Homo sapiens: one gene and its partners. The protein of the gene in region 3 interacts with the protein of the main gene of each other region in a pairwise test. Each region holds a gene or a part of one and is shown on either strand. Other genes may lie near its edges.

The links.
Region 1: the proteins of ELOVL4 (region 3) and GOSR2 interact in binary tests that used the Homo sapiens proteins (3 or more experiments, as listed by UniProt).
Region 2: the proteins of ELOVL4 (region 3) and BTN2A2 interact in binary tests that used the Homo sapiens proteins (3 or more experiments, as listed by UniProt).
Region 4: the proteins of ELOVL4 (region 3) and HMOX1 interact in binary tests that used the Homo sapiens proteins (3 or more experiments, as listed by UniProt).
Region 5: the proteins of ELOVL4 (region 3) and SERP2 interact in binary tests that used the Homo sapiens proteins (3 or more experiments, as listed by UniProt).
Region 6: the proteins of ELOVL4 (region 3) and PLN interact in binary tests that used the Homo sapiens proteins (3 or more experiments, as listed by UniProt).
Region 7: the proteins of ELOVL4 (region 3) and CMTM3 interact in binary tests that used the Homo sapiens proteins (3 or more experiments, as listed by UniProt).

Annotation. Positions count from the first base shown.
Region 1 is NC_000017.11:46,926,160-46,929,659, reverse strand, and holds part of GOSR2 (Golgi SNAP receptor complex member 2), read right to left. Parts: intron 141-3,500; coding exon 76-140; intron 1-75. UniProt on the Homo sapiens protein: Involved in transport of proteins from the cis/medial-Golgi to the trans-Golgi network.
Region 2 is NC_000006.12:26,389,608-26,393,107, reverse strand, and holds part of BTN2A2 (butyrophilin subfamily 2 member A2 isoform a precursor), read right to left. Parts: intron 3,104-3,500; coding exon 2,897-3,103; coding exon of another isoform or gene 2,838-2,896; exon of another isoform or gene 2,422-2,837; coding exon 2,401-2,421; exon of another isoform or gene 2,306-2,400; coding exon 2,279-2,305; exon of another isoform or gene 963-2,278; coding exon of another isoform or gene 813-962; exon of another isoform or gene 734-812; coding exon 141-733; 3' UTR 1-140. UniProt on the Homo sapiens protein: Inhibits the proliferation of CD4 and CD8 T-cells activated by anti-CD3 antibodies, T-cell metabolism and IL2 and IFNG secretion.
Region 3 is NC_000006.12:79,937,554-79,941,053, forward strand, and holds part of ELOVL4 (very long chain fatty acid elongase 4), read right to left. Parts: intron 1-3,500. UniProt on the Homo sapiens protein: Catalyzes the first and rate-limiting reaction of the four reactions that constitute the long-chain fatty acids elongation cycle.
Region 4 is NC_000022.11:35,387,596-35,391,095, reverse strand, and holds part of HMOX1 (heme oxygenase 1), read right to left. Parts: intron 1,233-3,500; coding exon 1,133-1,232; intron 1-1,132.
Region 5 is NC_000013.11:44,380,324-44,383,823, forward strand, and holds part of SERP2 (stress-associated endoplasmic reticulum protein 2), read left to right. Parts: intron 1-3,500. UniProt on the Homo sapiens protein: Interacts with target proteins during their translocation into the lumen of the endoplasmic reticulum. Protects unfolded target proteins against degradation during ER stress. May facilitate glycosylation of target proteins after termination of ER stress.
Region 6 is NC_000006.12:118,558,296-118,562,216, forward strand, and holds the end of PLN (phospholamban), read left to right. Parts: intron 1-529; 5' UTR 530-626; coding exon 627-785; 3' UTR 786-3,421; downstream 3,422-3,921. UniProt on the Homo sapiens protein: Reversibly inhibits the activity of ATP2A2/SERCA2 in cardiac sarcoplasmic reticulum by decreasing the apparent affinity of the ATPase for Ca(2+).
Region 7 is NC_000016.10:66,611,046-66,614,387, reverse strand, and holds the end of CMTM3 (CKLF-like MARVEL transmembrane domain-containing protein 3), read right to left. Parts: intron 1,780-3,342; coding exon 1,751-1,779; 3' UTR 501-1,750; downstream 1-500.

The DNA of each region.
Region 1 (3,500 bases), on a different chromosome or scaffold from region 3:
TGCAGTCAGGAAGCCCAGCCCATTAGCACCCTGTCATCAGAGAAAGGACTCTGGTCTCCACAGTTAATTACTCACTGTGCACAGACTGCTTGTCTGCCGTCTCCAGGCGTCCCATGCAAGACTGGATCTCGTGGACCTGCCTATCAAAGGAAGAGGGAGGAAATGAGTGAGACAGGAGTAATCAACAGCGCTTCAGTCAGGAAAGACAATTTTTCTGATGCCAACATGTAACTGATTTAAATCGACAGCATCACTGAACTGTAAAATTTGTATGTGGCACTTTAGGTCCCACGTTTTGGCATGGTTTCTAATATCTTAACTACTAACAATAACACTGATAGGCAGATTATGGGTGCTTACCATATCCAAGATACTCTGCCAAATCAATAACCCTATGAGGAAAGTACCATTATCATCCTCATTTTATAAAAACTGAAGCCCAGAAAGGTTATGTAACTTGTTCAAGATCACACAGCAAGTGATAAACCTCAAACTGAACCCGGCCAATCCTACTTTCTGTTCTACGACCTAATGTGCTAAGCACTGGCCTGTACCAGGAAGAGTCAAAGGGCGAGGGAGATATAATCCTTGTCCTTGAGAAACAACATAATGAGGAATGACAGGCTAAACAGACATGAACAAGCCCTGGGAAGATTCACGAGAAAAGCAATACACATAAGTATAAACAAACAGAAAGAGGGGCAGCTCTGCACAGTGGTGTCACAGGCAAGCAGACAGAGGGGTGGGGCTGAGAAAGAGAAACCAGGTAAGTTATGTGGATGGAAAGAGTTCTGAGCATCGCTGTGAAGAAGGGAGACATCATTTGGTGAAGGAAGATAGAAGAAAATGATATGCAAAAATTCATTCAAGACATGTGGATTACAAGTAGGGTGGGCTGCTTGAAAGGGAATCGGGTTGGGGGAGAGGATGCTGAAGTGACTCACTGGAGGAAACCATTCAGAGGAAGACCCTGAGACAGGGACCTTCTGTTTGGTAAACATCCTTCTCCGACAATATCAAGGAACGAAGGAACTGCCATCTCATTTGGAAATGCAACACTGTACCCTGGATCTGGGTAACACTCTCTGGAGGCTTCCCACGGTCTGGCCAAGGTCATCCTTAAGACCCCCTTCCTAATGGTCCTCCATGATCAGTCCTCGGGATACTGCTTATGCTGGCCCCACCATCCACTTCCCGGTGCTCACGGTGGAGATTTCCCCAAGTTAGGGCCCACATGAAGGGGGCCTGCTGGACTCTCACATCATCCCCAACGCTGGAGGAAAGGTCAGCAACCATTCTGCATCGTGAGCAATGCAAACCAGGACCCCAAATCTACCAATGCCAGCCAGGCACCCAACTTTGGCTTCAGCTTGTGCCCAGTCTTTTCCAGGGCTTCCCTATGGCCTCCAGATATGCCCTCGGGCACCAAAAGAAGCTGGGTGAGCTGTCAAATGACTCCCCAGGGTGCTCCTAGGCAAGACCTGTGGCCCTGAGAAGCAACTAGAAATCACTGCTAGAGTCCGAGACCAGGCCGTTGCTTCCGGAAAGTAAGTCTGGGATATTGTGGGATGATGCGGGGGTGTGGAGGTATGGGGGCTGATGTAGGAATGCAGCCTGAGGTAGCCGACACCTGAAGCAGGGCAACCAAGGGAACAGGTACAGGGGACCGGAGGGTAACGGGGACAGAAAGGAGAATTAGGACTCTAAGGAAGTCCTGACGCAGGCTGTGAGGTAAATTTTCAATGCTGATTTAACAGAAAAATCTGAAAGTTGGTAATATGATCAACACGAACAGTGACATAATAAAAAGGGGGGAGGTAAAGAATAGCCAAGACCACTCTGAAGAAGGAGGGGGAGGAATGACTTGTCCCACCTGCCATTATGACTTACAAAGCAGTAACAATGGAAACAATATGGCGGCAGTGCAGGTGCAGACAGACAAGGAAAGGCAAACCCTACAGCTGGCCCAAGAGGAAAGAAACAGCCTAGACACAGCCCCACGTTATTTGGGAGCTTTTGAAAGAAGGGACTACAATAAATGCCAACAGCTCCGGTTTGTTACCCGTACAGAAAAAGGCCACCTCAGGTAACACATAAAAATAAACTCAAGCTCACTTAAAACCCAAATGGAAAAAGCAGAGCAGCTTTCAAACTTTCTGAAGAAAATACAGGTGTGCATAAATGACCTCGGGTTACAGAAGATTTCTTAAATAAGACAAAATCCAAAAACTACCCACCCCCACAAAACCCACAAACCACAAAGAAAAAGATGGATACATCTGACAACATGAAAACAAAAAACTTCTGTACACCAAAGCCACAAAATAAACAAATGAATGGCACAGACTGGAGGGTATCTGCAGCAGATAACAAAGGATTGACGTGCAGAAAATATATAAAGAATTGTTACAAATCAATACAAAAAGTCAAACAAGGCATTTTTTTTAAATGAAAAAAGGGCAAATGACAGAAAAGAAAACCCAAATGGTCAATCAATATACAAAATGACACTCAACTAGGAAAACACAAATGAAAAGCAATGAGATCACATTTCTTCAGCCCATCAAACTGACAAATATTTTAAAGTTTGGGGACATATGCATTAATAAGGAAACAGGGAAACTAGAACTCTCATACCCAGCTGGTAGGATTATAAATTGGTAAAACACTTTAAATGCTTTCTGACAATAACTAGTAGAATAAAGCATGTGTCCATGCTATGACCCAGCAGTTTGAGGAATGTGTCCTAGAGAGGTTCTGGCATACCCTGAGGAGATGTACATGGCAGGACGTTCATCAAAGCACTTTTGTACAGGCCCATAATCCACTGACTTTTCCCATCAAATCTCTATTTGCTTTGAACCAATCAGAGACAATGTGGCCAATAATACAATTCCAGCGGCTACATTTCATGCTAAGAAAACATAAATATGAAACAACAAAGCAAGTATGAATGGCAAGGTGGGAACTACTAATATGCCAAGTGCAAAATCTGTCTCAAACTGAACTGGGAATTCTAACACAACATAACACACTGGAAGTCCATAAGAAACAGGTGATACACAAGCATGACTTGGGAGCGTGGACATGAGGAAAAAGAAGTCTTAGCCCTCTCTAGCATGGGGTCCATGGTGGGCTTGGGTGATAATATAACAAAGCAGAGAAATAGTAGCAAATAAGCCAGGGTCATTGTAGCCGTCTTTAAAAAAGGTTTACAGAAGATCTAGGAAGAATTTTTTAATGGAAGTGCTTTTTAAAAGTTCATGAAACTACTCACCGCCCCCCACCACCCCATAACATCCACTTTGCATCCAGGCTGCCTCTGACCATGATGAACATGAAAACGCTGTGTAACCTACACAGCATCATGTAAGTTTGTTGTTAACTTTACTTAAAAGTAGTGGCAACAATCTGGTCATTTTCATTTCACTCACTTTGCCTTTACATTTCGCTCATTAAAGGGCAAAATCTATAAAGGAAAAACATGGTCTTGAGATAAG
Region 2 (3,500 bases), about 54 Mb from region 3:
GGGTGTGAAAAAGGCAGCTGGAAGATGTTCTCTTACGTGACCAGAGGGGAGGAGGGCGTGTCTTTCATTAGGGGGGTTGTGCGGTGGCTGCTGAGATGGCCAGGGCTTATCTGCATGGCTGTGAGTCCAAGGAATTGATTCTATAGGCTCTGGTGGGTCCCCACTCTGTGAAGTTTCAGGCCCTCTTCAGGCACCATGACCCCACTGGCTCCTGTGAGTGCAGGGCAGATGAAGATGGGGCTGTCATCAGACCCTAACCTGAAGAAGGGCCTCACAGGCACAGTAAAGGCTGAACGGGGACATGTGTAGATGTGCGATCTGTCCCTCATGTTGTAGAAGGAGACATCTCCAGCTTCATAGTCCAGGAAGACGCCCACCCGGCAAAGGGACTCCTTCAAAGGGAGAATCCTCTCAGGGGAGGACAGGGCCCGGTATTGGTTTCCAAACATCTCCAGGGTCCAGAAGCCATTCTGAGGAATCAGCAGGACCTCCCCTTTCCTCTCAACACTGTGTCTGCAGACCCCCACAGTCCACACCATCACGTTTTCCACCTCCACCTCCCAGTAATGTTTCCCTGAGGCGAAGCTCTCCCATCCCAGGACACAAGGCTGACTGTCGAATCTCTCTGGGTTGTCAGGCACTCTCTGCCTGTAGGGGCCCCGCCTCACACTTCTCCGGTCCTCTGACAGGAAGAGCTCGGGATGAGCGGTGTCTGGATCCAGGACCACATCAGCTGCAGAGGAAGTCTCAGGTTTATGCCTGGGGTCTCAGGAACCCTGGGGATTGTGTGGTTCCTGGTCCCCAGAGAAGTCTCAGAAAGCTGAAGGGGGTTCCCCATGTAGTGGCCGTTTCCATGAAGGTCCCCTGATCCCAGGCAGCTCATACCCTGAGAATTACGGAAGCTGCACTTCTATCTCTCCAGAGACAGAAGCAGTGCCCCCAGGTTGAGAAGAATTGTGGCTCTATGAAATCCAGAGAGTTTAGGAAATGAGCCAAAATTAATGGTTCCCAGTTTTTCTCAGCATTCTAAGATCTGATCCCTTTTCTATTCAAGATATATGATCTCTGGGACTTTCTTTAGTTAGAAACTTTCCAACTTGGCTTAAACCATCACAGAAGCTTTATCTCCTATTGTTCCCCCACATACCTCTCAATGGATCAATTAAGTGAGTCTATCATTACACACTGTCCTAGGTGGTGAAGGACCTCTTCGTTGGTCCTATAGGTTGTTTTAATAGGTGACAACTGATTTAAGTGGCTGACAAGGGCACACTTCAAAGGATAAAGAAGGAGAATAAATGTGTGCAAAAGAAAACCTGGTGCCTGAGGGATGTGTGGGCAAAGTTAGGGAAGAAATACTTCAATCCAGTTTTGCTTTAACAATATGAGTCTGACATCTACCAGGATTACTTCTCCCATACAGGAAAAGCCCCAGGAGCTGAGCATTCTGCAAACCTCTACCTTCTGCATGTATTCTTACTTATTCAGTCTACCTTTCTATTGCATTAAAATGATTTTCTCTTTTCCACAAGTTGATATGTCTGATTGTGACAAGTTGTGATTGTGTCCCAAAATGACAGTGGCAATTTTGAAACTCGCCAAAGAGGAAAGGTCCATGGGCCCTGGTATCTGGTAAAGTTTGGATTCTTTGGTGCTGACAGGCAGAGGTGCCGAATCACAAGATGAGAACTCACTGGAAGTGGGCGATTGGTTTCTCTGTGCTCTCCCACTCACCCTCCCACTCACCCAAACCCCTTCCCCTGGCAGACTACATGCAGAATATCAGTGCTCTCTTAGAGGCAGAAAGGTATTTCTGGCCACCTATTTGTACACCATTGCATCAGGCTTACTGGGGACCCTTATGGCCTTTTCCTCACATAGGTCTTCAACTGTGCACAGTCTATACCATTCCCAGGATATGAATTGCTAAGACAGCATTATCTTATTTCAAATTGATCCAGAATCAAAGAGCAATGACTTCTGAAATGTAACTCTTAGGAGGCTACTATGCATGGGAAACCTTTGATAATCATGCATTAAATTATTCCAAAAGAGAAAGGGTCCTGGGGATGTAAACTGCAGGGTTCATTAAGAGCTGCTGGGGTTCCCTGACAGAAGAGCCATGATGCATCATTGCTGGGACACCGTTGATGAACTGACCCCAGTTCCCTATGGTCCCTGTGTAGCCCTGGGCCCCTTGCTCATCTCCTCTAAGGAGTCCTGTTAGCTGGCTAGTGGGGAGAAAGCTGAGATCTGAGAGAACATCAGAGGCACTCACCAGCATGTAAGAATGTTCTTCTCCATCCTGCAAGGGACAGACAGAGGTGAATGTCACGAGACACTGCTAAGTAAGCAGAACACAAATTGTACACGGAGTAGTTCAGGAAAGGCTAAACTTACGCAATTCTTCTTGAAGTTGCTCTGAAAACAAAATACAGAAACAAAATCATGTCTTCAACAGAAGAACTAAGAGAAATTGAGCTTGTATTAAACAACGTAGGAACCATCCTTTCTATGAACACCAACATCACCCTTCGTTTATGCCTAAGGAACAGTCAGAAACCAGCAATGATGTATGATCAGATGGCTGGGTAGTATCAGTACATTGTTAGACTTTTGTCTGAACTTTCGTTCAGCCATGTAGTGCTGCATATAGCCAGGTGAATGAATGTAATGTGTGCAGCATGGAAGAAAGAAAGCTCTGAATGATTACTTCTTATGACATGAGAGTTCCAAGCCCTTGTGGCTGCTGCTGTGCATTTCCTCTCTCTCTTCCCTAAGCCGGTACCTGTGAGAGCTGTGGCCTTTCTATGACAGTCAATTGTCCTCCTACTCATTTAACTTTTCTTTTTGAATTTCTTTCTATTTTTCCACACTTTCTTTACAAATTCCTTACGTGCAATTTCTTTTTCCTCTTGTTCAACTTTCTTTTCCCCTGACAGAATCTTTTTTTCCCTTTGAAGTTTCTTGATGCAACAGATGCTGACAGCCATGAAGATGATGAAAACAGCCAGGATGACAGTCATGGACACCATCCAGGGAGATGCGGTCAGGATGACAGCTAGGGCCACCATCCAGGGAGATGCGCTGGGCATAAAGGATTCTGAAAAGGCAGCCAGAAAAGTCCATTTAGTTTGAAATAGAACATCTGGATGAGAGTGCCCCTAAGAGCACATCTGAAGAGCTCCTCAGCCACCTGTTCTGTTGGCTTCTCCCTCAGAAACCTTAGATGGAGAAAGCGATGCTGGCTCAACACTGGCTGACACCTCAGTGACTGCCAGGGCCGGGCCCAGAAGGGGGCAAAGCAGAAACATCTGGAGTCACCATGGAAAGGACCAGAGTGCATAAAACTAACCAGCCATGCTGAGTCAGCACAGCCATCACCCTGCCTCAAACCACCATCACTCACGCCTGGAATACTAGAGTGCCCTCCTTCTTGTTCTGCTCTATTCTGTAATCTACTCTCAGCAGAGCAGCCCAAGTGAGATCATGTTAATTAT
Region 3 (3,500 bases):
CCAATGGAATATGAGGACTAAATGTGATAATACATATAAAACACTGGACACAGTGCCTGACACTTAGTAAGCATCCAATAAATGTTCACTATTATTACTGGGCAATAAAATGGTATTTATTGAATAAATAAGTAGGCTATGTTGCATTATAAAAAGGTCACTGTTGGGAAGGAGAAAGATCTTGATCCTATTCCAACTCTGTTACTTTCTAGCTATGTAGCTTTGAGTCTATTTCTTCATCTATAGATGGTTAAATAATATCTAACTTATAGAGATGATCTGAAAATTAAATATAAGGTGTATCAAATACAGTACTACAGCATCTTAAAATGGTCCTATACTAAATGCTCAATAAATGGTAGTGAGTTTCATCATGTGCAGACGATATCTGGTTTCAAATTCCTGACCTCAATGATCCACCCGCCTCGGCCTCCCAAAGTGCTGGGATTACAGGCGTGAGCCACCATGCCCAAGTGCAGGTGATGTCCAAATTCATGACTTCAGAAAATGGCCTATTCATAAAAGCCAGTTCATAAGGGAAAAGGAGACAATTTCAAGGGAGAAAATATATCTCGAGAGAGAGAGCTGAAGAATGTTGCCTCGTTTCCTGGAAGCCAAGATCAGAATACAAGTAGTTTCCTTCTCTCCTTGTTTCCAATTTTGCTGGGCTTCTCAGAAAAAGTAGTCATAAAACTTAATCTGGGAGTTCCAAGTTCAACCATCCACCCAATGCTGCCAATGAACTCAAAGCTTTAAGAAAATTGAAATGGTGTTTCCCTTTAGCAAAAAAGATGGAAGATACCATTAGAGTGTGTGAGTGTGTGAGTTAATGGGAACTTTAGCCAAAATCTTCCCTTGACTCTAACAGTTCTATAAGTTGAATAGCCACTGGGTAAAATACGGTTAGTCCTGAATGAATTTCATTATCCTTTCACTAACAAGTTTCTAGCTCTTGTATTATGCAATTTGGCAAATACTTTCATAATTCACTTTGAATACACTTTTTTTAAACAATCCTACACCGTCATATGGAAGTTAACCATCTTCTCAGGCTAAATATCGCATTTTGTATTCTACATATATTCACATATTTGTGTATGTATATAGTATATGAATAAATATCACTTTGTAGTTTAATCTCATACACCAGCCTTTATAGCACCTTTGAATATTTAGATGTCTTTCTTTAGATGATCTTTGGTAATATTATGACTTTGTTCAGATTTAGTATTCTAAACAGTGATACTCTGTAGATAACAATAAAAGAAAAGGTAAAATAAAAGAGAAACACAGATTACAGGCCTGATTATTTCTTTCTTGCTTGGCTAGTGTGACGGGAAGACAAGAGCACTGGGCTAGGGACAAAACAACCCATGCACATTCATTTGCACTATAGTGACCACCTACAAAAGTTACGTAACTTCTGTAAATCTCAAAGACTTCTAAATATATGGAAAAAATGCCTTCAAGGCCTATCTCCCAGAGTTATTGTGAAGTTGTTTGTAAAACCATAAAGCAAAATACAAAGCTAAAGTTTTCTTTCTTGTTATTTGCTACTTTCTAGCCACTCGGATTTTTTTTAAGCCAACAGCTATATAGTCTCTTTATAAAGTCATTTTACTTTAAATTGAAAAAATAAAGAAGAATTGACTGTTTTACCATTGAGCACTAAAGAGATCATTTCTACAGGTGCTAATGTATTAATTTTATAATATATGAAATTCTTGCATTGCGGTAAAAAGAAAAGCACATAACATAAAATATACCATCTTAATCATTTTTAAGTGTACAGTCCAGTATCATTAAGCATATCCACATTGTTGTGACTCTCTGGAACTTTTCTATCTTGAAAAACTGAAACTCTATACCTATTAAACAAGTCATCAGTTCTCCTTCTCCCCAGGCCCTAGCAAACATCTTTCTACTTTCTGTTTCTATTAATTTGACTACTTTATTTATTTATTTATTTATTTATTTATTTATTTATTGGGCCAGGATCTTACTCTGTCACCCAGGCTGGAGTGCAGTGGCACAATTATGGTTCACTGAAGCCTTCACCTCCCAGGTTCAAGTGATCCTTCTCCCTCAGCCTTCTCAATAGCTGAGACTAGAGGCATATGGCACCAGGCCTGGCTAATTTTTAATATTTTTTTGTTGCTCATGTTGGTCTTGAACTCCTGGGCTCAAGTGATCCTTGAGCCTCCACCTCCCAAAGTGCTAGCATTATAGGCATGAGCCACTGGGCCCAGCCCGAATTTGACTACAGTAGAGGGTCCATATAAGTGGAACCATAATGCCACATACATAATTATCTTTTTGTGACTAGACTATTTCACTTAGTAACAAGGTTCATCTATGTTGTAGCACATGTCAGAATTTCTTTCCTTTTTAAGACTGAATAATATTCCATTGTATGTATATACCACGTTGCGTTTATCCATTTATCCAACACTGGACATCTGGGTCGTTTCCACCTCTTAACTACTGTGAATAATGCTGCTATGTACGTGTGTGAAAAAATATATAAAATTAGTTAAAAACACACATCTGTGCTCAAGTTTTTGTTTGATAAGTGAATAAAAATGAAAACAGAAAAGCTTGTTTCTTGGAATTCTGCAGTTCAAAATCACAAATGCTTTTATGTGATTATACCTGACAGTGAGTAACTGATTTCCTCAGTGGACTAATGCATTTGTCTTTCAAATTCCAAAAATTTTACTCTAATACAATATAATCATAAATAAAACATCATTCTAAGGTATTTGTTTACAAATGGTAATATTTCATGAAGAAAAATATATGGCAAAAGATTTTAAAAATTTGTATTTTGATTAGTTAAGGAACATACTTATACCAAAACCATTTAGTTTCTTTTGTTTTCTCTTCTGTAAGACCTACACATTTTTATCAATTTTACAAAAATCTTAAGCCATACTTCCAAACTTAAGTAAAAAATGCTCATATATAAAGTGTTTATAATAGAAAATCATTTGTAATGATGTATGTTAAAATTTCACATTTTCTATTGGAAAAATATGAAGACTGAGTTTAGACTGATATCTAGGCTGCTGTTTTAGGAGATGTTATAAGGATTCAATAAACTAAGCCTTAAAGGTTATGTAGTTCAACCCTCTCACAGCACAGGTAGAAATAAGAGACCCAAAGAGTCATGAATAACTTGCCTAAAACGACATAATATGCCATCCTCAAAAGCTGAGTATCACAAAATAAATGTAATATATAATTGAGATAATTTTATTCTTTAATATTATTGCTACTGTTTTCGATAAAATAGTTGGCTCTTGGTTATTCAAGGAATCCAGATAATTAAACAGGTATAGTGTTACAGCAACAAAAGCAATGTTATTTCAAAACAGACGCTTAAATATCTGTATACTTTTGTTGCTCTATTCCTCTACCTATTTCTTATAAAGCAAATTTTAAAAAGTAAAAAGAACTAAATAAGAATCTGTTATTTGTACTATTTAGGCAGTGTTGAT
Region 4 (3,500 bases), on a different chromosome or scaffold from region 3:
CACAAGTGAGAAAGCCACAAGCCAGGTAGGTTAGGGTGGCACAGGAGGGGAGGCCTAATATAACCTGCCAGGAGGTAGCTAAGCCTTACCTCTTTATTGCTACCCATCCCAAAGCCACACTCCCTCCCTCAGTGTTTTAGGCTTAGTGAGGGTACATTTTGTGGAGCACTTTGGTCTTTTTGGAAGTTTCCAAGATGTTTCAGTACAGCCAGCCTTGATCGTTCTTAGGCACATGAGGGAGGGGCTCACACACAACAAGACTCAGAAGGGACATCTTCCTGTGGTGGGTTCATAGCTGGATACAGGTCCCCAACTCCCTGGCCCACATCAGGGGACCAAAGGCCTAAAAAGGAGTCTAAATTAAGGAGGCAGGAGTTTCCCATGATTTCTGAGGGGTTCTTGTGCACTTCTGAGCCAATAAGCTAGAAGTAGCTGAACCTCACTGGATTTTACGGGTGGGGAAACTGAGGTAGGGAGAAGTCTCATGGCTTGCCCAGAGCCACACGCTGAAGGTTGACCCCAGGTCCTTTTGCCTGCACTCCACTTCTCATACAAAAACACGCAGGTGGCCGGGCACAGTGACTCACGCCTGTAATCTCAGCACTTTGGGAGGCCAAGGTGGGCGGATCACCTGAGGTCAGGAGTTCGAGACCAGCCTGGCCAACATGGTGAAACCCCATCTCTACTAAACATACAAAAAAAAAATTAGCCAGGCATGGTGGTGGGCGCCTGTAATCCCAGCTACTCGGGGGGCTGAGGCAGGATAATTGCTTGAACCCGGGAGGCAGAGGTTGCAGTGAGCTGAGATCGCGCCACTGCACTCCAGCCTGGGTGAGACTCCATCTCAAACAACAACAACAACAAACATTCAGGCTGGCATGGTGGCTCGCGCCTGTAACTGCAGCATGTGGGGAGGCAGAGGCAAGAGGATTGCTTGAAGTCAGGTGTTCAAGACTGGCCTGGGCAATATAGCGAGAACCTGTCCTTACAGGGGCAGTGGGGTGGGGCAGCAGGAAACAACACCCACCACCACCAAACATTCAGAAAACAGAGGAATAGAGATACTACAGTCAGACAGCCAAGTCCCTCCATGTGTAGCCCAGAGGAAGTGCCCCTTCCTGGATGCTCTCACCTTGCACTTTGTTGCTGGCCCGCTGGCGAAGCCCTGGTGCCCGTGAGGGGCTCTGGTCCTTGGTGTCATGGGTCAGCAGCTCCTGCAACTCCTCAAAGAGCTAAAAGACAAAAGACACACATGCCTATCTCAGTGAGAGATGCTACCAGGTCCCAGCTGAAGGTAGGACCTTAAGTTGTGTTAGGAAATACTTTGGAAATAACAAGATGGTAAGAAAAATATTGGCCGGACACGGTGGTGCGCCCCTGTAATCCCAGCACTTTGGGAGGCCAAGATGGGCACATCACGGGTCAGAAGTTTGAGACCAGCCTAGCCAACATAGTGAAACCCCATCTCTAGTAAAGATACAAAAAATTAGCCGGGCGTGGTGGTGCATGCCTGTAATCCCAGCTACTCGGGAGGCTGAGGCAGGAGAAATGCTTGAACCTGGGAAGCTGAGGTTGCAGTGAGCCAAGATCGCCCCATTGCACTCCAGCCCGGGTGACAGGGCGAGACTCTGCAAGAAAGAAAGAAAAGAAAGAAAGAAAGAAAGATAGAAAGAAAGAAAGAAAGAAAGAAAGAAAGAAAGGAAGGAAGGAAGGAAGGAAGGAAGGAAGGAAGGAAGGAAGGAAGGAAGGAAGGAGAAGAAAGAAAGAAAGAAAGAAGAAAGAAAGAAAGAAAGAAAGAAGAAAGAAGAGAGAGAGAGAGAGGAGAGAGAGAGAGAGAGAGAGAGAAAAGAAAGAAAAAGAAAGAAAGAAAGAAAGAAAGAGAGAAAGAAAGAAAGAAAGAAAGAAAATTCATATCCCTTTCATCCACCTTAAGAGATAAGATGTTCCAAGCCCAATTGGCTCCCCTGCCTGCTCTTGCCCTCCCAACCGATAACAATGATCCTGGATTTAGAGTTCACTGTGGCCGCCCATGTCCTTAGCCTGTGTCTCCATGCAAAAGGCTGCGTTGCTTGTTTTGAAATAATATTAAGTGGTATCCTAGTACATGCACTCTTCTGCCGCTGCTTTCTTCTCTTGAGTTTAGATTTGTGAAATTCAGCCTTGGTGAGGTGTGCTGAATGGTATTTGTTAGCCTTGCAGATGAGGAAACTGTAGCTCCTACAGGTTAAGTGCTTTGCCCAAGGACTGATCCAGAGGTCAGGCACTAAGAGCCGTTTTTTTTTGTTTGTTTTTTGTTTTTAATACGGAGTCTCACTCTGTCTCCCAGGCTGGAGTGCAGTGGCGCGATCTCTGCTCACTGCAAGCTCCGCCTCCCGGGTTCACGCCATTCTCCTGCCTCAGCCTCCTGAGTAGCTGGGACTACAGGTGCCCACCACCATGCCCAGCTAATTTTTTTTGTATTTTCTTTTTTTTAGTAGAGATGGGGTTTCACCGTGTTAGTCAGGATGGTCTCGATCTCCTGACTTCGTGATCCACCCGCCTCGGCCTCCCAAAGTGCTGGAATTACAGGCGTGACCCACCACGCCCGGCCAGCCAAGAGCCGTTTTTTTTTGTTTTTGTTTTTGTTTTTTTGGTTTTTGAGACAGAGTCTTGCTCTGTTGCCGTTGCCCAGGCTGGAGTGCAGTAGCATAATCATGGCTTACTGCAGCCTTGACCTCCTGGGCTCAAGCAATCCTCCCACCTCAGCCTCCCAAGTAGCTGGGACTACAGGTGCACGCTACTATGTCTGGCTAATTTTTTCATGTTTTTGTAGAGATGGGGTCTCACTGTGTTGCCAGGGCTGGTCTCAAACTCCTGGGCTCAAGCCATTTTCCTGCTTTGGCCTCCCAAAGTGTTGGTATTATAGGCACGAGCCTGAGAGCCAGTTCTGATTCCAAATCCCTTTTCTTTTAAAAACATTTTTTTCCTTTAAATTTTTTTTTATTTTTTATTTTTGATAGAGACAGGGTCTCACCATGTTGCTCAGGCTGGTCTGAAACTCCTGAGCTCAAGCAATCCGCCCACCTCGGCTTCCCAAAGTGCTGGGATTACAGGCGCGAGCCACTGCACCTGGCCCTTTTCTTTTGCCTACACTTCTCTGAAAGACACAGATTTTCTTCCTCCAAGACGGACTGGATTTTCTGAAGGGGGAGGGTGGAAGGGAAAGGCCTTGTTCCGTAACAGGGGCCAGGACCAGAATCTTCTGCAATCCACGGCTGGGAGTAGGGAGCCAGGAGGGCATGACCCCGAGCCCCAGGCCCCATGGCACCTCCAGGGGGTGGCAGAGAGAGAAGGCTCTATGACATCTGGTTAGAAGGAGCCCCTCACCCCTCCACCTCTGCCCAAGAATTCATCCTTCCAGGCTTTGCGCAAACCCCACCTTCCCCCTGGATTTGAGACACTTGTAGAAAGAGGTAAACCTCTCTGGCTAGGCTGAGAGTCCCTGGAAGGCAGAGGCCACC
Region 5 (3,500 bases), on a different chromosome or scaffold from region 3:
GTCTCAGAAATCCTTGTGAGTGGAGGTCACTTCTTCTAACTACACAGCATGCCTTGAGGGATTCCCACCCTCCAGCATCTCACTGTTACTGAGGGCAGGGAGGCAGAAGGTCCACATCTTCCTGCTCAGGCTTAGGCCTCCCAGCAAGACAGCCTCTGCCCCAATGACAAGAGAAGCCCATGACTAAAGATGAATCATGCATTCAAACCTAAAATCATGAAAATTAAAAAAAAAATTTAAGATGGATCAGTTCCTTTTATCTTCAAGAGACCACTCTTCCAAAGAAGCAAAAACTCTTAGGAGGAAGGAAGGATCCAAAGTACTTGGCATTATTGTTGCTTGTGGCTCAAATATTTTAAAGATGATTTGGCATTCCAAGATGAGAAAATCTTACACTCAAAGAAAGACAGTTCTACTCTATTCCCAAAGAAGTATCTTTAAGGACATCTTTTAAACAGCTGTTTACCCAATCCCTATTTGAATACTTCTTCAAAAAGCCTATTCCATGTCTGCTGGAATTCTATTAGAAATGTCTCTCCTGTTTTGAATTACACTATGCTGTCTTCTCAGTTGTTCAGATTTGAACTCCTAGGGTAACACAGAATGGACTCGTTCTCCTCTAAGCACCTTGAATCATCAGATATTTTAAAGATGACTGCCTGGTGGCTCCTTCTGCAAACTAAGCTTCCCTAAATCTCTCGACCTTGCCTCATAAGATGTGGTTTCTAGACTCCTCTTCTGGATCTGCTCAATGACTTTCTTAAAGGGTAGCATTTGGCAGCGCATGCCTGTAATCCCAGCTACTTGGGAGACTGAGGCAGGAGAATCACTTGAACCCAGAAGGCAGAGGTTGCCATGAGCCAGAGATCGCGCCATTGCACTCCAGCCTGGGCAACAAGAGTGAAACTCCGTCTCAAAAAAAAAAAAAAAAAAAAAAGCCAGGCGCAGTGGCTCACGCCTGTAATCCCAGCACTTTGGGAGGCCGAGGTGGGGAGGATCACAAGGTCTGGAGTTCGAGACCATCCTGGCCAACATGGTGAAACCCTGTCTCTACTAAAAATACAAAAAATGAGCTGGACATGGTGGCACGCGCCTGTAGTCCCAGCTACTCAGGAGGCTGAGGCAGGAGAATCACTTGAACTGCAGAGGTGGAGCTTGCAGTGAGCCGAGATCGTGCCACTGTACTCCTTCCTGGGCAACTGAGCGAGACTGCGTCTCAAAAAAAAAGTATAGCATTTGCAACTGCAGAAGGTGGTCTAGAAGCAGTGTGACCACCACAGAGGCAGTAGGATTGTCACTGCCCTTGATTTTGCTCACCACTCTGCCTCTATTAATGTGACCCAGGCTTGCAGTTACTTTTTAACAGTTGCAGCACATCCTTGACTCACGTCTAGCTGATGGCCAGCCAGATGCCACCCAGCTCTTCCTCAGATAAACTTCCTGCAACCCCGGAAACACATCTACATACCCCTTTATCCCAAGTCTCTCCTGTCTCCATCACATATTATTTTATTTTACTCATGACCCTCATCAGCAGTTGCAGTTATTTAGTTTACTTACTTAGGTTCATTTCCCTCCAGTAGGATATAAGCTCAGGGGAGACAGTGTTTATTTTTCATTAAATTTGTAGATCCTAGTTTAGTATTTAGCACATAGTTAGTGCTTAGGATGGATGGATGGATGGATGGATGGATGGATGGATGGATGGATGGATAAAGCCAGATATTCCTCATACTGTAGATATCTAGTTGACCTTTTTTGAGACCTAATATAAAACTTTATGACTTTTTTTTTTATTCTCAAAGAAGAACGATTACTTCTATTAAAATTTTAGGCTGGGCGCGGTGGCTCACGCCTGTAATCCCAGCATTTGGGAGGCCGAGGCGGGCGGATCATGAGGTCAGGAGATAAGACCATCCTGGCTAACACGATGAAGCCCCGTCTCTACTAAAAATACAAAAAAATTAGCCGGACCTGGTGGCAGGTGCCTGTAGTCCCAGCTACTTAGGAGGCTGAGGCAGGAGAATGGCGTGAACCAGGGAGGTGGAGCTTGCAGTGAGCCGAGATTGTGCCACTGCACTCCAGCCTGGGCGACAGAGCGAGACTCCGTCTCAAAAAAAAAAAAAAAAAAAAAAGAACAAAATAAAAACAAACAAAACTATGCCTTTATCATACCACAGGAAAATCAAGAAAATAAACCTGTACAAAAAAGTTAGCTATGTTTTCAGGCTGTATGACCAGTCTGTAGATTGTCAGACCTTGAACTTTAAGCCTCTGATCTACTTACCCTTTTTTCCCAGTGTTATGGTCCCTGAAAATATATTATTCTTCCAAGTCACTGATAAAAGTCTAGACTTGGAGAAACCCACAGAACACAATCAGAGACAACCTCTTTCAGGTTGACTTTGAGCCTCTAAGCAAAACTCATTCAAGCAATCATCATGTCTTGAGGGTCCCCTCTGTGCCTGGCACTGTGCCGGGCTTTGGAAATACAATCCTGTTTGGGTACTTGCAGGCATTGGGAGAGGCAGATAAGGAAGCTGTCAGTTGCAGCCCAGGGAAAGCGCACTGCGATAGTGACAGCAGAGTTTACAGGGTGCTTGGCTGGCATGGATAAGGAACTTCTAAATCATACTCAGCAGAAGAGAAAGTTTCCAAGGGGAGGTGCTGTTTGAGCGGAGTCTTGAAGAACAAACAGCCAGACAAAGGGTGTGAGGAAGGTGATTCTGCATGGGAACACTATGTGGCGGTGGCATGGTGGCTTCAGAGAATGTGCTGGGCTCAAGAATATAAGGTGCTCAGAATGGCCAAAGCCTACTCTCAGGCATCCCTGAGCCCCGTGACCATGCCACCTGTATTGTCAAGGGTCTAAGTAGATAAAGATATATATAGGCTTCAAGATACACAGTAACTGTGGCCTTCTCCAGTCTGCCCCCTTAGGCAGCCTATAAGGGAAAAAGCCAGTAGAGTCATTTGGCGTGGCTTATTTTTCTCAAACCCATGCCAACTCTCAAAACCCATCTCTTCCTTTTTGGAGGGTTTAAAAAACTATTATATGGCCTAAACTTTTGCCTGGCTTACCAGCCCATGCAGCAGGACCTGTATCTTTCCCTCTTGGGTAAATTGGGACATTTGCTAACAAGCATCTTTTAGAACTCTCCTGGTCTCCAGCAGTTTCCTAGGGATTGAGTATGTTAGCTCCACCTCTCTGGAGGTTTGCGTTTTTTTTGTTTTTTTTTTTTTGAGACAGAGTCTCGTTCTATTGACAGGCTGGAGTGCAGTGGCGCAATCTCGGCCCACGGCAACCTCCACCTCCCAGGTTCAAGCGATTCTCCTGCCTCAGCCTCCTGAGTAGCTGGAACTGCAAGCACGCACCACCATGCCCAGCTAATTTTTTTTTTTTTTTTTTAGTAGTGACGGGGTTTCACCATGTTGGCCAGAATGGTCTTGATCTCTTGACCTCATGATCCGCCCACCTTGGCCTCCCAAAGTGCTGGGAT
Region 6 (3,921 bases), about 39 Mb from region 3:
TTTCTCTCAACGTTTAATATTAGAAGTGTTTGGGGTCTTTATTGAGAAGTTTGGTGATGTTTTTGTGACCAGAAATATGCTATAGGAACTTAACTCTTGTTTACATCAATCAGCCTAGGGTAAAAATGGTTTTGTTATATGTTGTTTTGCGTAAAGTCATGGTTTCCAGGAACTTATGGAAGACACTGAGGATTACTCCAATACTTGTAGTAAATTTGGGAGAAAAAGGCAAGGACTAAAGTTACTACTCCTAACACAAATGAGACGGTCATGGTGTGCCCCATCAAAAAAGGAGAGAAAGAGAGACAGACACATAGAAACACGTGCACATACACACACACACACACACACACACACACACACACAGAGAGAGAGAGAGAGAGAGAGAGAGAGGGAGAGAGACTATAGAAACATGATGTTATAAATAACAATAGTGCTGAGGAAGATGAATTAGTGTAAAATTGTATTTTTTGTTCTGAGGATAGGTTACATAGATGATTCTAATCCATTTATTATTTTTACATTCCAGGCTACCTAAAAGAAGACAGTTATCTCATATTTGGCTGCCAGCTTTTTATCTTTCTCTCGACCACTTAAAACTTCAGACTTCCTGTCCTGCTGGTATCATGGAGAAAGTCCAATACCTCACTCGCTCAGCTATAAGAAGAGCCTCAACCATTGAAATGCCTCAACAAGCACGTCAAAAGCTACAGAATCTATTTATCAATTTCTGTCTCATCTTAATATGTCTCTTGCTGATCTGTATCATCGTGATGCTTCTCTGAAGTTCTGCTACAACCTCTAGATCTGCAGCTTGCCACATCAGCTTAAAATCTGTCATCCCATGCAGACAGGAAAACAATATTGTATAACAGACCACTTCCTGAGTAGAAGAGTTTCTTTGTGAAAAGGTCAAGATTAAGACTAAAACTTATTGTTACCATATGTATTCATCTGTTGGATCTTGTAAACATGAAAAGGGCTTTATTTTCAAAAATTAACTTCAAAATAAGTGTATAAAATGCAACTGTTGATTTCCTCAACATGGCTCACAAATTTCTATCCCAAATCTTTTCTGAAGATGAAGAGTTTAGTTTTAAAACTGCACTGCCAACAAGTTCACTTCATATATAAAGCATTATTTTTACTCTTTTGAGGTGAATATAATTTATATTACAATGTAAAAGCTTCTTTAATACTAAGTATTTTTCAGGTCTTCACCAAGTATCAAAGTAATAACACAAATGAAGTGTCATTATTCAAAATAGTCCACTGACTCCTCACATCTGTTATCTTATTATAAAGAACTATTTGTAGTAACTATCAGAATCTACATTCTAAAACAGAAATTGTATTTTTTCTATGCCACATTAACATCTTTTAAAGTTGATGAGAATCAAGTATGGAAAAGTAAGGCCATACTCTTACATAATAAAATTCCTTTTAAGTAATTTTTTCAAAGAATCACAGAATTCTAGTACATGTAGGTAAATCATAAATCTGTTCTAAGACATATGATCAACAGATGAGAACTGGTGGTTAATATGTGACAGTGAGATTAGTCATATCACTAATATACTAACAACAGAATCTAATCTTCATTTAAGGCACTGTAGTGAATTATCTGAGCTAGAGTTACCTAGCTTACCATACTATATCTTTGGAATCATGAAACCTTAAGACTTCAGAATGATTTTGCAGGTTGTCTTCCATTCCAGCCTAACATCCAATGCAGGCAAGGAAAATAAAAGATTTCCAGTGACAGAAAAATATATTATCTCAAGTATTTTTTAAAAATATATGAATTCTCTCTCCAAATATTAACTAATTATTAGATTATATTTTGAAATGAACTTGTTGGCCCATCTATTACATCTACAGCTGACCCTTGAACATGGGGGTTAGGGGAGCTGACAATTCGTGGGTCCGCAAAATCTTAACTACCTAATAGCCTACTATTGACCATAAACCTTACTGATAACATAAACAGTAAATTAACACATATTTTGCGTGTTATATGTATTATACACTATATTCCTACAATAAAGTAAGCTAGAGAAAATGTTATTTAGAAAATCATAAGAAAGAGAAAATATATTTACTATTCATTAAATGGAAGTGGGTCAACATAAAAGTCTTCATTCTCATTGTCTTCACATTGAGTAGGCAGAGGAGGAGAAAGATGGGGAGGAAGAGAAGGCGTTGGTCTTGCAGTCTTGTCTTAGGGGTGTGGGGAGTGGGGGAAAGAATATTCATGTATAAGTGGACCCTTGCAATTCAAGCCCTTGTTGTTCAAGGGTCAACTGTAATAGGATATAGCTATTTTTCTTCCTCTATCAACCAAATGGTAAGCATCTATTTTGCAGTCCACTCTACTGAGCTAAATTATAGATCCAGCTATGCTATTTATAATTATTTTCTTGATGAATAAATTTTCAATTTCTCCTCTGACCATTTCAGAACATCTTCCAATAACTCATAAAACAACTGAAGTAAAATTGAGTGCTGGAAAATATATTCACCAAACTTTGGTAATTTAAGTTGACTAAAGTTTAAAATTAAGTCTAAAATAGTTTACACCTATACTGCATAATCCAACAATTTTAATTTCAGTTGAAGACATGTTACTAATATAACTATTATTAAAAGAGTAGAGGATGTGTAATTAACCATATCTTCTAAAACATGGTTACTAAAAGAATATGTAACATCAATATTGACCTTGGTTTCTTACACAAGTGTTGCTAACTCAATAGTGAAGGAGACACTATTAAATTTTCTGAACCCATGAGAGATACTAGAGATGGGGAGTGGAAAGTGTTTGGTTCAGGGATATCTGAAGAACAGAAGGGCAGAGATTTCTTAAGTGACGCCTCATCTACAAGCTGGAAATTCCTAAAAACAAGTAGAAAGCTTATAAACAACAGGTGATACACTCACCTCACTGGTTTTAGTAAATTACCAATACAGAAAGTATCCCTAGTCTTAAAAACAAGTGGAAAATTTGAACTGATTAGTCATATTCCTTTGATTACACTGTTTGTTACAATATTTTTCTCAGTAAACAGAAATAACTAATTTTTTTGTTCTTCATTCTTTGATAGAAATTAAAATCTTATTCTGTGAGGATTACAGAATACTATAACTCAAATTATAAAGTAGAATAAACTCTTTAAATAATTATTCTTCATCATAAAGTGTAAAGAATAAGATATAAGAAAACAATTTATTTTTAAAATTTAATATACTAAATGCTCAAATATGTTCTACTATAGAATAAGTTCTTATCTTAATTTACAGGGCACTAAAAACAATTTTAAAATGCTTAATGTTGCCTTTTATATTTTAATTGGTTAAGAATATATATTTGTTTAATGCAAATCAGAATCACTATATTAAAATGAATGTTCTTGAAAACTCAGTGGGGCTGCTCTATAATACACTTACAATTGATACTAACGATAAAACGCTCTAATTATAGTTTTAATTTTATAGGGGTTTTTTTGGTGACTTTCCCCAAATAAAACAAAATCAAGACGCCCAAGTCCAGACACACAAGAGGGCAGACGTATATAAGATAACAAATTGCTACTACATAGCGATTATTTATCTTTTGATTATTTTTGAGACTTCTGGCAAAGTAGGACTATAATAAATTTTCAGAAAAGATCTGCTCTTCTGCTAAGTAACAGCACACTTCAAAATGTCCAGAAATTTTATGCTAATATTACATAGAAAACTTGACAGATGAAAAAAGTGAAACACATTACTAATTTTATTCATTAAAACAGGTATATAAAAGTCCTCTTTAACTACCTAATGAATGTGTCATATCCTAATATAGGGAGTGTCATAGTGTTCACATCTTTGAATATATAAATTATCTCAAACAGTTAAAAAATTAAAGCCAGAACAGGGTAC
Region 7 (3,342 bases), on a different chromosome or scaffold from region 3:
GCCCCAGGGTTCCGGCTGCCTGAGGCTGCCGTGAGACACTATCCTGATGTGTAAGTGAGAGGGCCCTGGGCCAGTTACCCGACCTCTGTCTCAGTTTCTTTGTTTATAAAACAGGGTAGTGTGAGAACTAGAGCAGGGGTCCCCAACCCCTGGGCAGTGGACTGGTACCATGGGACCTGTTAGGAGCCAGGCTGCACAGCAGGAGGTGGGTGGCAAGCAACGGCATTACCGCCTGAGCTCTGCCTCCTGTCAGATTGGCAGTGGGATTAGGTTCTCATAGGAATGCGAATCCTATTGTAAACTGTGCATGCTACGGATCTAGGTTGTGTGCTCCTTATGAGAATCTAATGCCTGATGATCTGAGATAGAACAGTCTCATCCTGAAACCATCCCCTCCCACCCTCACCCCAACCCACCCGCCAACCCCCAGTCCATGGAAAAACTGTCTTCCACGAAACTGGTCCCTGGTGCCAAAAAGGTTAGGGAAATAAAGGATTAAATGGTAGTCAGATTTCACGTGTATTTTTGCTAAAACTGAAAGCTGTCAGGATCCACATTGGTGTTACCAGTTTGTACTGAAGCCTGATACAATACCCAACAGTATTGCTCTGGTTTTTTCAAGCACACACTCCAAGCAAGTGGTCAGTCTGGCTTAATTCATTATGGCTTTTTTTCAGGGTAAGAGATTCACACGCAAGAGAATAAGGCTACAAATGCTCCAAACATGGGTCCAGAACTCTGGCTCTTTTGTGAGGCCTAGAGTCACAGAAAATGCCATCTGTTAAGAAGCTGCTTTTGCATAAAAAAATATAAAAAGTTACAAAATTCCATCAAAGACAGATACACAGTATAAATCGTTAGGTGAACACAGAAGGCTGGTCTCATCTCCTGCAGTGGCCCATAGACCTGCCCTGAGGTCTGGAAGTTCACTGTCCTGAGGGTCCAGGAACTCCTGCCTGCTGGCTGGGCTCTAGGAAGAAGGAGGGTTTGGCTGGGCCCGCCCAGCTCCCCATGACACTGTCACTGTGATGCCACTGTTGTACCCTCTGTCTTCTGGACCAGTCAGTCTATGAGCTCTTCTTTGAAACAGTCTTAGACCCAGAATGGTCATCTCACCCCCAGAAGACATGGTTTCCAAGGGTGGGAGGTGTTAGTTATGGGTGCCGAGCCCCACTTCCTGGGCGACAAGGCAAAGGTCAATTTCTCCCTGCTTCAAGAATGAAGAGGGAACTGGTGCTCCTTGAACCAAAGATTCTTGGAAGGGTCATTGTCACCAAAGTGGCTGGTGTGGGCAGGAGCACCAAGTGCAGACAAACCCACCGGGGCCTGGCGGGGCAGCCCTGTCATGGTTTCTGTCTTTGTTCCTGTTAGTGAAACAGAAGACCCCCGACCCCCGCCACCTAGCAGCATGGAACACCTGCTGCCCAGATACAGACAAGGCTCTGCTTTGTCTCCTTGTGCTGGTTTTTGGCAGAGACGTTAAAGGGCTGAAGGCCTGTGGGACAGAAATGGGGAGAAGGAGTGGGATACCCAAGATGCCCTCATACGCAGCGTGGTCAACAGTGCTGAGCTGAGGGGCAAGCCTGGTAGGCTGGGCTCAGGCAGAACCTGAGGCTGTAGGGGGCCTGCTGTGTCCGCAGCCCCCTCTGCAACTCAGAAGTCCAGGCCTCCGCTCCAACGCCAGCGACCCCTGTGAGGCGCAGGGGTGGAGGCCTGTGTGGCTCAGGTTGCCAAGGCACCCGCCAGGCCTTCAGTCAGAGTCCGAGTCGGAATTCTCTTCTGAAAGGAAAGCAGAGAGGATGCTTGGCAGGAGGCTCAGGGCAGCGGTGCCTGGGAACGGTCTCTGGGGAAGCACAGCTGGGTTGCTGGCAGGAGCCTGGGTGCAGGCCTCCTGCAGCTGACTCTACCGTTCCCAGTGATCGCTGGCATCAGGGCAGGCCGCGGGCCTGAGGCCCTCCACAGGCAGCAGCCACTTTCTCTCTCTCTTTTTTTTTTGTTGTTGTTTTTTGTCTTTGAGACAGAGTCTTGCTCATCACCCAGGCTGGAGTGCAATGGCGGGATCTCGACTCACTGCAACTTCCTCCCTCCCGAGTAGCTGGGATTATAAGCGTGTGCCACCACACCTGGCTAATTTTTGTACTTTTAGTAGAGATGGGCTTTCACCAGGCTGGTCTTGAACTCCTGACCTCAGGTGATCTACCCACCTCAGCCTCCCAAAGTGCTGGGGTAACAGGCGTGAGCCACCGTGCCCGGCCGCAGAAGCCACTTGCACCTCCAGGGTGTGGGTGCGGGTGCAGGTGGGGGTGTTTCCACCCCAAGACTGAAGCCCAGGTGCCCCTTCCTCAGGCCCAGCCCCTCCGGAGTCTCCCTGGGCTTTTCTCAGCTGGGTGGGTCAGGGCTGTACCTCTGCATTCCAGCTCTACCCCCACCCCCAGGTTCAGCAGGACAAGGTGAGGACAGCTATTTTCTTGTCCCCCAAACTAAAATATACTGGAAAATCAGCAAGCCTCTTTTTAGCCATTTTATATCTTCAATCCCCCTCCCCCAATCCTTGTTTAATATTGTAATCAGAAACAATTTTATAATGGTAAGGGCCTGCCTATGAGGTGTACCTCGAGGGTTCCTGAAATCCCAGTTCTGTCTCGGAGCTCTGTAGAGCCTTCTGGAACCTCCACCCCAGAAGGAAAAGCACCAGAGTCACTAACCCCCAACCCCACCCCAGTGCTGGTTGCTACTTCCTGATGCTCATCCCCTCCCTGGCCAGCCTCTGTCTCTCAGAACCCCAGTCAGTCCCCATGAGCTGTCGCTGGCTCATGGCTGGGCTCAGGGCTGGGGTGTGGGCAGCCTAGTCCCTAAACCCCAGCTCTGTCCCTCACTCCGGTTCCTGGGCTGCACTCGTCAGATTTTGTGGGTTTTGCTATATTCAATTTTTTCCCCCCGAGATGGAGTCTCACTCTGTCGCCCAGGCTGGAGTGCGATGTCTTGATCTCAGGTCACTGCAACCTCTGCCTCCCATAGGTGATTCTCCTGCCTCAGCCTCCCAAGTAGCTGGGATTACAGGCGGGCACCACCATGCCTGGCTGATTTTTGTATTTTTAGTAGAGATGGGGTTTCACCGTGTTGGCCAGGCTGGTCTCAAACTCCTGACCTCAAGTGATCCACCCGTCTCGGCCTCCCAAAGTGTTGAGATTACAGGCGTGAGCCACTGTGCCTGGCTGCTATATTCAATTCTAACATATAAGTCAAGAATAATTTTACAGCAAAATAATTGTTACATATGTGAAACTCTCCAAATAGTAAAACAAAAAAAACAAAATAAAACCACCCAAGTTTCCACTGACG